Homo sapiens: one gene and its partners. The protein of the gene in region 2 interacts with the protein of the main gene of each other region in a pairwise test. Each region holds a gene or a part of one and is shown on either strand. Other genes may lie near its edges.

What was found.
Region 1: the proteins of PAX2 (region 2) and IL13RA2 interact in a two-hybrid assay, tested with the Homo sapiens proteins (one large-scale study listed by BioGRID and IntAct).
Region 3: the proteins of PAX2 (region 2) and PRDM14 interact in a two-hybrid assay, tested with the Homo sapiens proteins (one large-scale study listed by BioGRID and IntAct).

Annotation. Positions count from the first base shown.
Region 1 is NC_000023.11:115,003,476-115,007,760, forward strand, and holds the end of IL13RA2 (interleukin-13 receptor subunit alpha-2 precursor), read right to left. Parts: intron 1,841-4,285; coding exon 1,722-1,840; intron 632-1,721; coding exon 605-631; 3' UTR 507-604; downstream 1-506. UniProt on the Homo sapiens protein: Cell surface receptor that plays a role in the regulation of IL-13-mediated responses. Functions as a decoy receptor that inhibits IL-13- and IL-4-mediated signal transduction via the JAK-STAT pathway and thereby modulates immune responses and inflammation.
Region 2 is NC_000010.11:100,807,963-100,811,612, reverse strand, and holds part of PAX2 (paired box protein Pax-2), read right to left. Parts: intron 2,504-3,650; coding exon 2,377-2,503; intron 1-2,376. UniProt on the Homo sapiens protein: Transcription factor that may have a role in kidney cell differentiation. Has a critical role in the development of the urogenital tract, the eyes, and the CNS.
Region 3 is NC_000008.11:70,061,222-70,064,871, reverse strand, and holds part of PRDM14 (PR domain zinc finger protein 14), read left to right. Parts: intron 1-3,650. UniProt on the Homo sapiens protein: Transcription factor that has both positive and negative roles on transcription. Required for the maintenance of embryonic stem cell identity and the reacquisition of pluripotency in somatic cells.

The DNA of each region.
Region 1 (4,285 bases), on a different chromosome or scaffold from region 2:
TGTAGCTGGGATTACAGGTACGCGCCACCATGCCTGGCTAATTTTTTGTATTTTTAGTAGAAATGGGGTTTCACCATGTTAGCCAGGCTGGTCTCGATCTCCTGACCTCAGGTGATCCACCTGCCTTGGCCTCCCAAAGTGCTGGGATTACAGGCATGAGCCACTGCGCCCAGCCTAAAGCCAAACAGTTTTATTCATACTGTATACTTTCATCCCAAGTGCAGTTTAAAACAAACAACAACAAAAACTAGAATCTCATTTTCCAAGATCTGACAATATCTCTGTGGCTTAGTGCAATCTGTGAAGTCACATTGTTTTATTAATACATCATAAATATAAAACCTGACTCATACCTTGATTGGAGAACTACGTGCAGCACTCTCACTATGAATTTATGAGAAAAGAAACTGTTAATAGAATCCAGAAAATGTACTACTAGCTGAGGCTTTGAGTACTCAAAAGCCTATTTAAATACAACAATATTTAAAAATAAGACGTATTCAACATTCGCAAGAAAAATTCAGTTTATTGAGACTCATATTGAACATTTGGCCATGACTGGAAACTGTTGAGTCAATACCATGTCTCTTGATATGGAAAGTCTTCATGTATCACAGAAAAATTCTGGAATCTAGAAAGAACTCTGTTATTAACAAGTCATCTCTAATAACACAAACTATTTCACTGAAGATTAACAACTCAGAGAATAAGCACAAGAGCATTCAGCAAACAAAGTGAAGCATTCTATACACATTCACTTTTCTCTCTATCTTGAAAAGATATGGCATTGAGATATCTTTTCTCAGCTGGGCACAGTTGCTGGCACCTGTAATCCCAGCACTTTGGGAGGCCAAAGTGGGAGGAATTGCTTGAGCCCAGGAGTTTGAGACCAGCCTGGGCAACATAGCGGGACTCCATCTCTATAAAAAATCTAAACATTAGCCATTGTGTCTGGCTAATGTTTAAATTTTTTATAGAGATGGAGTCCCGCTATGTTGGTGCCTGCCTGTAGTCCCAGCTACCCAGGAGGCTGAGGCAGGAGGATTGCTTGAGCCCTAGATACCAAGGCTGCAGTGAACCATGATTGCACCACTCCTCTCCAGCCTGAGTGACAGAATGAGACCCTGTCCCAAAAAGATATTTTTCTCCAGGTTACAACTCCTCCTTAAAGCCCCCCAACCCAGAGTGGTCCTATTGTTTTCTGAAATTCTATAGCATTATCTGCACGACTCAAATGGCAATCATCTAAAATCATCTCAAAGGTTATATTTTTTTGTATGGATCCTGTCTCCCTTAACTTGAGTGTGTGCTCCAAAGGCAGGCACCATGCTTTATCATTTGCATGTGTTCTTGTGCCTGTGGCACACTGGTAATATGTGTTTCAGTCTATGATCATTTTAATTCACTCTTCTATTTCTCCCAATCCTGCTTTTCTCTTGTAACTCTTTCCGTATACCATTCTCTAATCTAGGGCCAAATAGTATTTCATGTTTAAAGTTTGATTTCGACAAAAGTAAATCCACCTCAAAATGAAGTCTTGTAAGCTTAATTTTTAAAAATTGCTGTATTTTCTGAAGATAACATCATAATCCATACGGAATCAATTGTACACCCACAGCGAACAAGCAAAATTATAAAATGTATCTCCATCAGTTCTAAGTGCAGAACATTTTAAAAATCTCCTATTCTCAGGCTAAACATCATAATGTTACACATCTTACCATTTTTGGGTAGGTGTTTGGCTTACGCAAAAGCAGACCGGTTACAAATATAACTAATATTAAGATGAAACCAAATGGTAGCCAGAAACGTAGCAAAGTTTTCTTCGATAGGTCTTCACCTAGGATTAAAAATCACACGGAAAGGGGAAGTGTTAGACATTTGCCACTATTTTTGAAACTGAATTATTTTATAAATACTTCAGAACTGAGTTGAGCTTGGAAACCCCTGTCATATTTGCCAGTGCATAAATACCACAATTGTGTTTGAGTATAGCGTTCCTTTCATTTGTGCAATTTTTATATAGAAAAGTACTTTACTGAACTGTGACATGTCTTATTTTCACTTAGAAAAATAACTTCCCCAAACACAATTCTTATTTCCTGATATGAGTTTGTTTATATTTGACCTTGTGAATTCTCCATTTAAAAATGACAAAATATTAGCCAAGTGATTAAACAAACATGTCCTGTGTGTCTGTCTCTTAACTCTCAGTAAGTCAAACGTGTACTTAGATCATAGGATACTGTACCAAGCAAGAGGTATCCTTCAATAAAAATTCCTGTGTGAGTAATGGAAATCATCTTTTAAGGTTACCTTTTTAAAGTTGTCTCATATTTTAAAGACCAAAGGGAGGGATAAGGTTTTTCTTTTCTTTTTGATTTTGCTTTGTTAGTTTAGGGATGGAGTTTTAATGGTTCTTCTGCATAGCAAGAAATGAGCAATCACTAGGCAAACTTAAAAAGCAGACGAAGTTTGGTCTCCCTAAACTAGTACCTCTCACTTGTTTTGGAGTAATATAAAAGATCTTGAATCTTAGCCACGCATCTACAAAGCTCTCTTGATCCCACCTTTTTCTTTGTCCTATTTCCTCACGATCTTGTTTTCTATTAGAAAATTATCAGTCAAATTCACGTGTTCAGAGAAGATTTACAAGAATATAATCCAGAGAAATTACTGATGTAAGTTATCTGTCATGCAAAATTAACAGTGGGAAGGCAGGAAGCTCCTTTGCTGAAGTTCTACTGGCTTTCCCCATACAGAGTCAATCCTGAAGAGGACATACTTTTATTTCCAAAAATATTATTGTCCTATTTTTCTATAACTTGAAACATCCAATAAGAAATGTCCTAAAGAACTGAGACCACATGCAACTCAAGAAATTCCTTGTTTCTAATTTCAAAGTCATTAAGATTCTATGAAGAGGGCTGGGCACAGTGGCTCATGCCTGTAATCTCAACACTTTGTGAGACCGAGGTGGACGGATCACTTGAGGCCAGGAGTTCAAGACCAGCCTAGCCGACACGGTGAAACTCTGTCTCTACTAAAAATACAGAAATTAGCCAGGCGTGGTGGTGCATGCCCGTAATCCCAGCTACTCAGGAGGCTGAGGCACGAGAATCGCTTGAACCCAAGAGGCAGAGGTGACAGAGAGCCAACATCATGCCACTGCACTCCAGCCTGGGTGATAGAGCAAGACTCTGTACCAAAAAAAGGAAAAGATTTCCCTCAAAGCAAGAGAAATCTTAGGCATCACTATCATTGATAAGATTGCATGTAAAATACAGAAAAGAATATATTTTTTGAGGATATGGCTAAAAACTCACCATAACCACTTTATACAATGCATTGACTAATGACGAGATATAGTTCAGGACATAACTTTAGAGTTTCCTGATTTTTTAAAACAGTAACAAAAATGAAAAACATAAAACTAGTAAGTCTTCTTTCTGATTCCATATAGCTCTTGGTTGAGTTTTCCACTGTCTTGCTATTTTTTCTCCATAATCCTTAGTGATTATATAATCTATTAGGCTTCTCGTTTATTGCCTATCTCTACCCAATTGGAAATAAAATGTAAGTTCACTGAGGGTAGAGATTTCTTTACTGCCATATCTGTAATGCTTGAAAAGAGTCTGATACATAGTAGGTGCTTAATAAATATTTGATGAATGAAAGGGATCAATGATACCACTGTATTCGTAGGGAGATAATAGAGATTCCACTATAGTAGAACAACATGAAAGGAGATGAATGATTGATAGATATGGCAGTATCTGTCTGTATCAGCATCAGTATATTTATTTAGAGCTGCATCTATATCTATGTACCTGAAAGAGCAATGCTGAGTTGATTTCCTTCAATTTTGAACATTTATTAGTAATTTCTACTCTTAAAGCTAATACATTGTGAAGCACAATCACATTTTACCTCATTCTTTAGGCTTTTTAGTTTATATTGCTATGTAATTTAAATGACTTTATCACAAATCACTTTAAATCAGTGTTAGAAGTGAATGGAATGAATATGTATTTTACTATTCATGACCTTTTAATTAGAAAAATATTCCTTTTGAATAGTATTAGACACCCAGAAACAAATGTATGCTGATCTATACTTGCTTTAAGATTTCTGTTCTCTTGAATACTGAAAGCATATGAAAATATTGATTAAAATAAGTTCCTGCCAATCTCTCAAAAGAATGAGCATATTATCTATATTGACAGAAAAACAAGAATTTTGATAATAGAAGTATAACAATATTCCTAGTCCTAACTGAATGAAT
Region 2 (3,650 bases):
GGCCTCTCCCGCACTCCAGCTCTGCCTGGAGCCCAGTTCTCACAGATGCCAGTATCTTTCTAGAAGAACTCACCCAAAGTCCACTCTCCTGTTTCTGTTCTCCTTGCATCACTGCTCACTACTACCCACAATATCCTGGCCTGAAGGCCAACATGCTGGACCCACTGCTGAGATGGCATATGGAGTCTCTGAGCAATGCCCCATGGCTCACCTTGACAGTACCTCTAGCAAATTCTGTTTGTCCCCATAATAAACACATCATAAATCATTCATCTTTAATAGATTATGCAAATTAGGAGGACATAAAATCAACAAAGATCAATAACTGCAGCAGTTTAATTGCCAGCAAAAACATTTTAAGAATGAGCATAATCTGCAGCTCTTTCTTGGGTAATGGCACTATTAATCCAAACAGTGGATCTTGGCCTAAGTGTGGAAAAATCATTCCCTACCCCTATCCCCATCTTCCCTCCCCCACCTCTCCACACACTTGTCTCTTTTTGGTAATTTCCAGTTTCTGAGCGAGTTTCCCCGTCATTACCACTGGTGAACAGCTCCGAATGTTAATGGTTCTGCTTTTGTTACTCCTCGCTTGATTGAAATGTCGCATACAGATTGAGATGTTAGTGCTAACTTGCCACCTGGGAATGTCAAGCTGGGTCTGAAATGAACTTTTCTCACACTTGGATCCAGATGGATCAGCCGGAGATGTTCCCAGGCTGAGCTGGGACTGTTCCAGGGCCATGGGGGGGAGGCGGGTGGGGGCTGCTCAAGGTGGAGGCACTTCTCTGTACCAGCCCCTGGGTCTCCTGTGGCAGGAGCCCTACCCTGAAGATCCATAGCTCCACCCTAGGAAGCCCTTGCCTTCTAGACTATGGCCTGAGCGCTGGGCAGCAGATGGGGTTAGAGAAGTCTCCCGGGTTCTCTTTGAACAGTGCCTGGAGTGGCCATCTTTGGGAAGTGACCACTGTACTTCTGAGCAGGTCAGGAGAAAGGTGGCCTGGCCTGGGCCGTCTCTCTGCCTTGGGTCAGAATACCTAGCAGGTCAGAGAGCTTCCCAGCTGGGCGAAGGATGGCTCATGCTGAGGGCCATTTGGTCATGGGCTGTGTCCTGGCCCAGCTAACCCAGCTAAGGTCGTCACTCCCGAAAGCCCAGTCCAGGTCTCCAACACTTCTAGAATTCAACCTCTGACTCCCTAGCCAAAGATCTAGGCTGGAAACAGTTGTACCAGTACAGCCCCTTAGGGAGAGGCTGGGAAAACTGACAGGGCTCTCCTAAGCCCCCAGGTGGAGGCTGGGTGGCCACTGAGCCCAGCTCAGGCTCAAATGCAGCCGCACTCAGACCAGCTCACAGGCAGAACCAGGGCCCAGTCCTAGAGTGGGCGGTGCCTGTTCCCTGCCTTTGCCGCTGGCTCTGCAGCCCTGCTGCTGGGTCCGCAGGCCACCTCCGCTTGCCTCGCTCTGCAGGTAACGCCTCAGTGTCTCCCAATCCCCACCGAGACCCTTCTCAATCATCCTGTCTCCCAAGGAACAAACGGCACATTGGCTTTAGTGTCTCCAGAATAATTAGGTGAATTTTAATAACACCTCAATGCGTGTCTCTCCCATTTGGGCAGTCTCCTGGCCTGGAAACCCTTCTGCAGTGGCACGTGCATTCCACAGCCTGGAGCTCTGCGGCCTTCCCTGGACTCCACCTCCCCTTCCAAACTAACTGGCCCTGCTGCTCTTCATTTGTAGGGGCTCCTGGCCATGGCGCCCCTAGCTCTGCATTTGATTGTGGGCCAAGCCTGATCCTACCTGGCCTTGAAATCAAGCCTTGGTGTCACTGACCTCTCTGGGAAGCAGGAGGAAGGCTGGAATAATTGTACTCATCTCAAACTCCACAGAGCTGGGTGCCATGCCCTCAAGCCCAAAGCCATGATCACCCATGCTGCCTGGAGGGAGCGGTAAGCGGGTCCCCCAGGAGCCTTGGAGACCCAAGTGTGGAGGCTGGACACTGGGTACCCATGCTCCACTCTCACCAGCCTGGCTTATTTGCTTTCTGCAGACATCCTAACAAGAGGCTCATGATTCTGGGCAACTTGGGAGAGGGAAGAGAAATAGACAAAGGGAGAGGCGAAGGACAGGAGGAAGAACTGGCAACAGCCCCTCCTAGCATCAGCCTTTCCAGGTTGAAGCCCACAGATGCCCTGACCCCAGTTTTTTTCTCCCCACATCTGCACACCCCTGTTCAGGAAGCACCCTGGTTTTAGAAGCCTCGTTCTCTCTGTAAATATCACGGTGGGGGACCTGCTCCTCACACTGGGCCTCAGATGGCATGGGCTGAGGCACCCTCCACTGAACGCAGTGCCCCCACCCTCCTGGAAGCCCCCTTACCAGTCACAACTGGGTATGTCTGTGTGCCTGACACGTTGCTGCCCAGCTCAGGGTTGGTGGATGCAGATAGACTCGACTTGACTTCATCAAGCCCAGGGGTCAGGGCTGGGAGGGAGTACTCGTTCCCCTGGGAGGAGAGAGAAAAGTGACAGCTCTCTATTGATGCACGCACAGAGAAAGGGCTCGGTGTGCAGATGGGGAGGAGGAACAGGGGAGCCCGCCCAGATGGGGTAGAAAGAGATGGTGGGGCAGAGGGGAGATGCGGGGGCTTGGTGGATGATGGCAAGTTTTGTGCGGGTAGTAGACCTGACTTGGTGAAACCGGAGGCACAGCACCCTTTACACATTTTGGGCACTTAATGCCAGCACCCTTTATGTTTCTGTAGCATCTCCTGCCTAAGCACCCCTGCGGGTAGGGTGTAGTAGTGGGGATACCCTTGTTGAGAGGCATGGGATGTCGAGGAGCCTTGGGGAGGAGGGGGAACCATGACATGACTGGCAGAGCCAGTAGCTGGGAGAAGGGCCTAGTGGGGCCTTCAGCCTGGCACTGCTGGCTGATCGGGTATGGGCGCCCCTTTTTTAAAAACAAACAATGACAGCCCCATGGGCCCCTCGCTGTCTGCCTGTGCACTGGGGTATGAAATTGGGGAGGGGGAGAGTCCACATGGCTAACAGAAGGGTAGGAGGGGGCCAGTCATTGACTCTGAAAGGGTGTCCTGCCTGAAACACTCGGGTAATTGCCTTTTTATTGCAGCCACGGCCAAGCCAGACCCCAGAGCTGGGCAGACCGGGAGCCTGCACAAAGCAGGAAAAGTTGCTCTGATTAATATTACGTTAAATTAAAACTGATTTCCTGCTCTTTCGGGTCTGTTTTTTTCCCTTCCGCTTCCTGGCCCCCCTAGAGTACCCCCTCCCCTCCATGGCTGGACGGGATTGCCTCGTCATTTCCAATTCCTTCTCGTATTGATCTTCCTGTAGAAATCAGTTTTGTAATTAGCTGCAAATTAGGCCTTCTACTGGGGGTGAAGCTGCCCCCTGATTTATCACCAGAGTAATTCGCTGTGATCGGAGAGAAATTAAAATGAACTCAATTAGGCTTCGGATTTGCTTTATGGGCCCTGCTCCGAGTTTCAGGGGGAAAAATGACTGTGCTGGTGTTTAATAGTCTAATGAAAGTAAATAAAGGTTATTCATTGTAATACAGGCGGGGACTCAGGGAGGGTGCACTGAGCCGCCCGCCTCGGCCAGCTCCTCCTTTGTTGGTTTATGGCTCAG
Region 3 (3,650 bases), on a different chromosome or scaffold from region 2:
TTATTATGATGTAATAAATGTGTAAGGAGCAGGTTTAAAAAAAAAATGGCCCAGGCGTGGTGGCCCACGCCTGTAATCCCAGCACTTTGGGAGGTGAGGCGGGCGGATCACGAGGTCAGGAGATCATAGCCATCCTGGCTAACACGGTGAAACCTCTTCTCTACTAAAAATACAAAAAAATTAGCCGGGCGTGGTGGCGGGCCCCTGTAGTCCCAGCTACTTGGGAGGCTGAGGCAGGAGAATGGCGTGAACCCAGCAGGGGGAGCTTGCAGTGAGCTGAGATTGCGCCACTGCACACCAGCCTGGGCGACAGAGCGAGATTCCGTTTCAAAAAAAAAAAAAAAAAAAGTAAATTGCATCTGCATGCCTGTTTTCCTGCTAGGCTGAGATGCTTCAGGGCAGGAAATAACCCTAAACACTTTAGTATCTCGTGCTTCTGGATCCCAGTGCGTACTGACTGAGAGGAAGACATTAGAACTAAGCTAGAAAAAGCTGCTTAGGGATGAGATGAAATAAGGCACGTGTAAGAGGGAGAGAGGGAAGGCAATCAGGCTCAGGGAACAGTGAAGCAGAAGGCAAGGAAATGTCCAGAAATTAGGGGGTAAATAATAAGCAGTCATTATTTATCTAATGATAAATAATGAGCAGTCAGCCGTCATTATTTATCTAATGATAAATAATGGTCCCAATGATGAGGGGCTGTCAGGATTGTTTTGGTGAACTATCTTCCTACTCCCCCAGGTATCTTATGTCCATGCTGGGTTCCCCCCGCCACTGAACCATCATAAGCCCTCATTCTGTTGCTTGTTCTGATCGCCTCTGATATCTGCATACAGGTTGAGTATCCTTTTTCTGAAATGCCTGGGACCAGAAGTGTTTTGGTGGGTGGTGTGGGTGTGGGAATGTAGGTGAAGATAGGAATGGAGGCAAAAATGGTTGGGATTCTCTATGATCTGTGGAGCTCTAAGTTGTCTCCTACTTAGCACCAAACCAAGACCTGTTGGTCACTTCCTGAAATGTACCAACTCCTTTCGAAATAAAAGTCAACAGGCTGGGCGTGGTGGCTCACACCTGTAACCCCAACACTTTGGGAGGCCAAGGTGGTTGGGTCACCTGAGGTCAGGAGTTCACGACCAGCCTGGCCAACATGGTGAAACTCCGTCTCTACTAAAATACAAAAAATTAGCTGGGTGTGGTGGTGCATGCCTGTAATCCCAGCTACTCAGGAGGCTGAGACAGGAGAATCGCTTGAACCCAGGAGCAGAGGTTGCAGTGAGCTGAGATGGCGCCACTGCACTCCAGCCTGGGTGACAGAGTGAGACTCCATCTCAAAAAGAAAAATGAAAGAAAGAAAAGTGAACAATGGATTTGAGAAAAGTATCTGCTTAGTAACTGGCAAGATGGTTATTATCCTTTTGAGAAATCATTATTATTTTTTGAGATAGGGTCTCACTCTGTCACCCAGACTGGAGTACAGTAGTGTAATCTAGGCTCACTGCAACCTCTGCCTCCAGGGTTCAGGCATTTCTCCTGCCTCAGCCTCCCGAGTAGCTGGGATTACAGGCATGCACCACCACACCCAGCTAATTTTTGTATTTTTAGTAGAGATGGGGTTTCGCCATTTTGGCCAGGCTGGTCTTGAACTCCTGGACTCAAGTGATCCACCCACCTTGGCCTCCCTAAATTCTGGGATAACAGGCATGAGACACCATGGCCGGCCATTTTTGAGAAATTTTTTCACCGTATGTATCAAATTATTACAATGTTTGTAACTTTGATGTCTCAGTAATACTCTTCTGGAAATCTATTATCGAGAAATAGTCCAAAAGGAAAAAGCTATGCTTATGAAAATTTTTAACTGTGGCACCACTCTTGTGAGTGAAAAATCACAAACAACCTAAATGTTCAGTAGTATAATAATTAAGTAAATGATGATACAGGCTCAGCAGCTCCAATCAAGAAATCCCAAATCCAAAATGCTCTAAAATCTGAAACTGAGCACTGACATATTGCCAAAAGTGGGAATTTCCACACACCAGTACTTGACACAAACTTTGTTTCATGCACAAAATTATTTAAAATATTGTGTAAAATTACCTTCAGGTGGGCCAGGCACGGTGGCTCATGCCTGTAATCCCAGCGCTTTGGGAGGCCGAGGCAGGCAGATCACCTGAGATCAGGAGTTTGAGAACAGCATGACAAACATGGTGGAACCCCGTCTCTACTAAAAATACAAACAAATTAGCTGGGCATGGTGGCAGATGCCTGTAATCTCAGCTACTCAGGAGGCTGGAGCCGGATAATCGCTTGAAACCGGGGGCGGAGGTTGCAGACCGAGCAAGATTCCGTCTCAAAAAAAAAAAAATTACCTTCAGGCTATGTGTATAAAGTATGTATAAAACAAAACATAAATGGACTTTATATTTAGACTTTGGTTCCATCCCCAAGATACCTCATTATGTATATGAAATATTCCAAAGTTCGAAAAAAACCTGAAATCCAAAACACTTCTGGTCCCAAGCATTTCAGAAAAAGGATACTCAACCTATTTGTTATTAACATGGAATAGTATGCCGATATCAGAGGCAATCAGAGCAAGCAACAGAATGAGGGCTTATGATGGTTAAGTGCAGGGGATACCCAGCATGCAGATAAGATACTTGTGTTCCAGTTCTGAACCAAGTGATACCTGATGCTTACAGCATTATTATGAGGACATATATTTTGGACAATGGAGGGAAACTTGTAAACAACTTAATTTGTTGGGAATAATTATAAATGAATGTTAATTTGTTAATCTGTTAATATGAATGGTTTGGATGTGATAAAAAGGAAAGAAAAATTAAAATTCCATTGCATTCTCAAATGAGTTTTTTTCCCCAAAGGCTTTTTGGTGGGGATTGGTGGTAGGTGGGAGCCTTCCTCTTTAAGGTCTTGAGTGGTGAGGGAAGGGTCTAGACTCTATGTGGGCGGGTTATTTGAATATGCAAGCATTCCCCTCTTGTGAGGGAGAGAGGGAATTTGGGTGTGTGTTTTGGGGTGTGGAGGTGTGAAGAGCTAGGGGGAGGGAGGATAGGGAACAAGATAAAATTAGGAAGGATAGGGAACAAGATGAAATTAGGTTTCATTTCTACCTAAGTGGTTGTTCTTAAGCGAACTCAGTATTGAAACTTTATTCTGAATTTTGGTGTGCTTTAGTGCTTAGGTTTGTAAAATTGCTGACCCTCTCTTCCCTTCCCACCCCAGGAAGCAGGAAGGCCAGGTATTTCTGACCAATAAAAATTCTACCTCTGTGCCAAAAAAGTGTCCCAGCACGGGGATTCTGAGAGTATTAGCACCTCAATGAAAGTGATAGACAGAGCAGGGCGATGGATCAGCTTGGGGCTGGCAGTTGCCTTCCTGGTTATTTACTTAATGAATAGTTTATTTCCTTAGCCACCTGTTAAACGTGCCTGGGATGTAGTTGTCAACTAACAAAGCCCCTGATGGACAGCTTCCCTGCTGTCCTGATGCTGAGAAGATTTCTATCTGCAGACTCTTGCATAGACTCACTCTTGGCTGCTCTTCCTCCCTGGGGTCAAACAATGAGATCTCTGTGGTGCATTCATAGTCAAAGCCACTTTATCCTCTGGGATCCAGAGTGTCCTCTG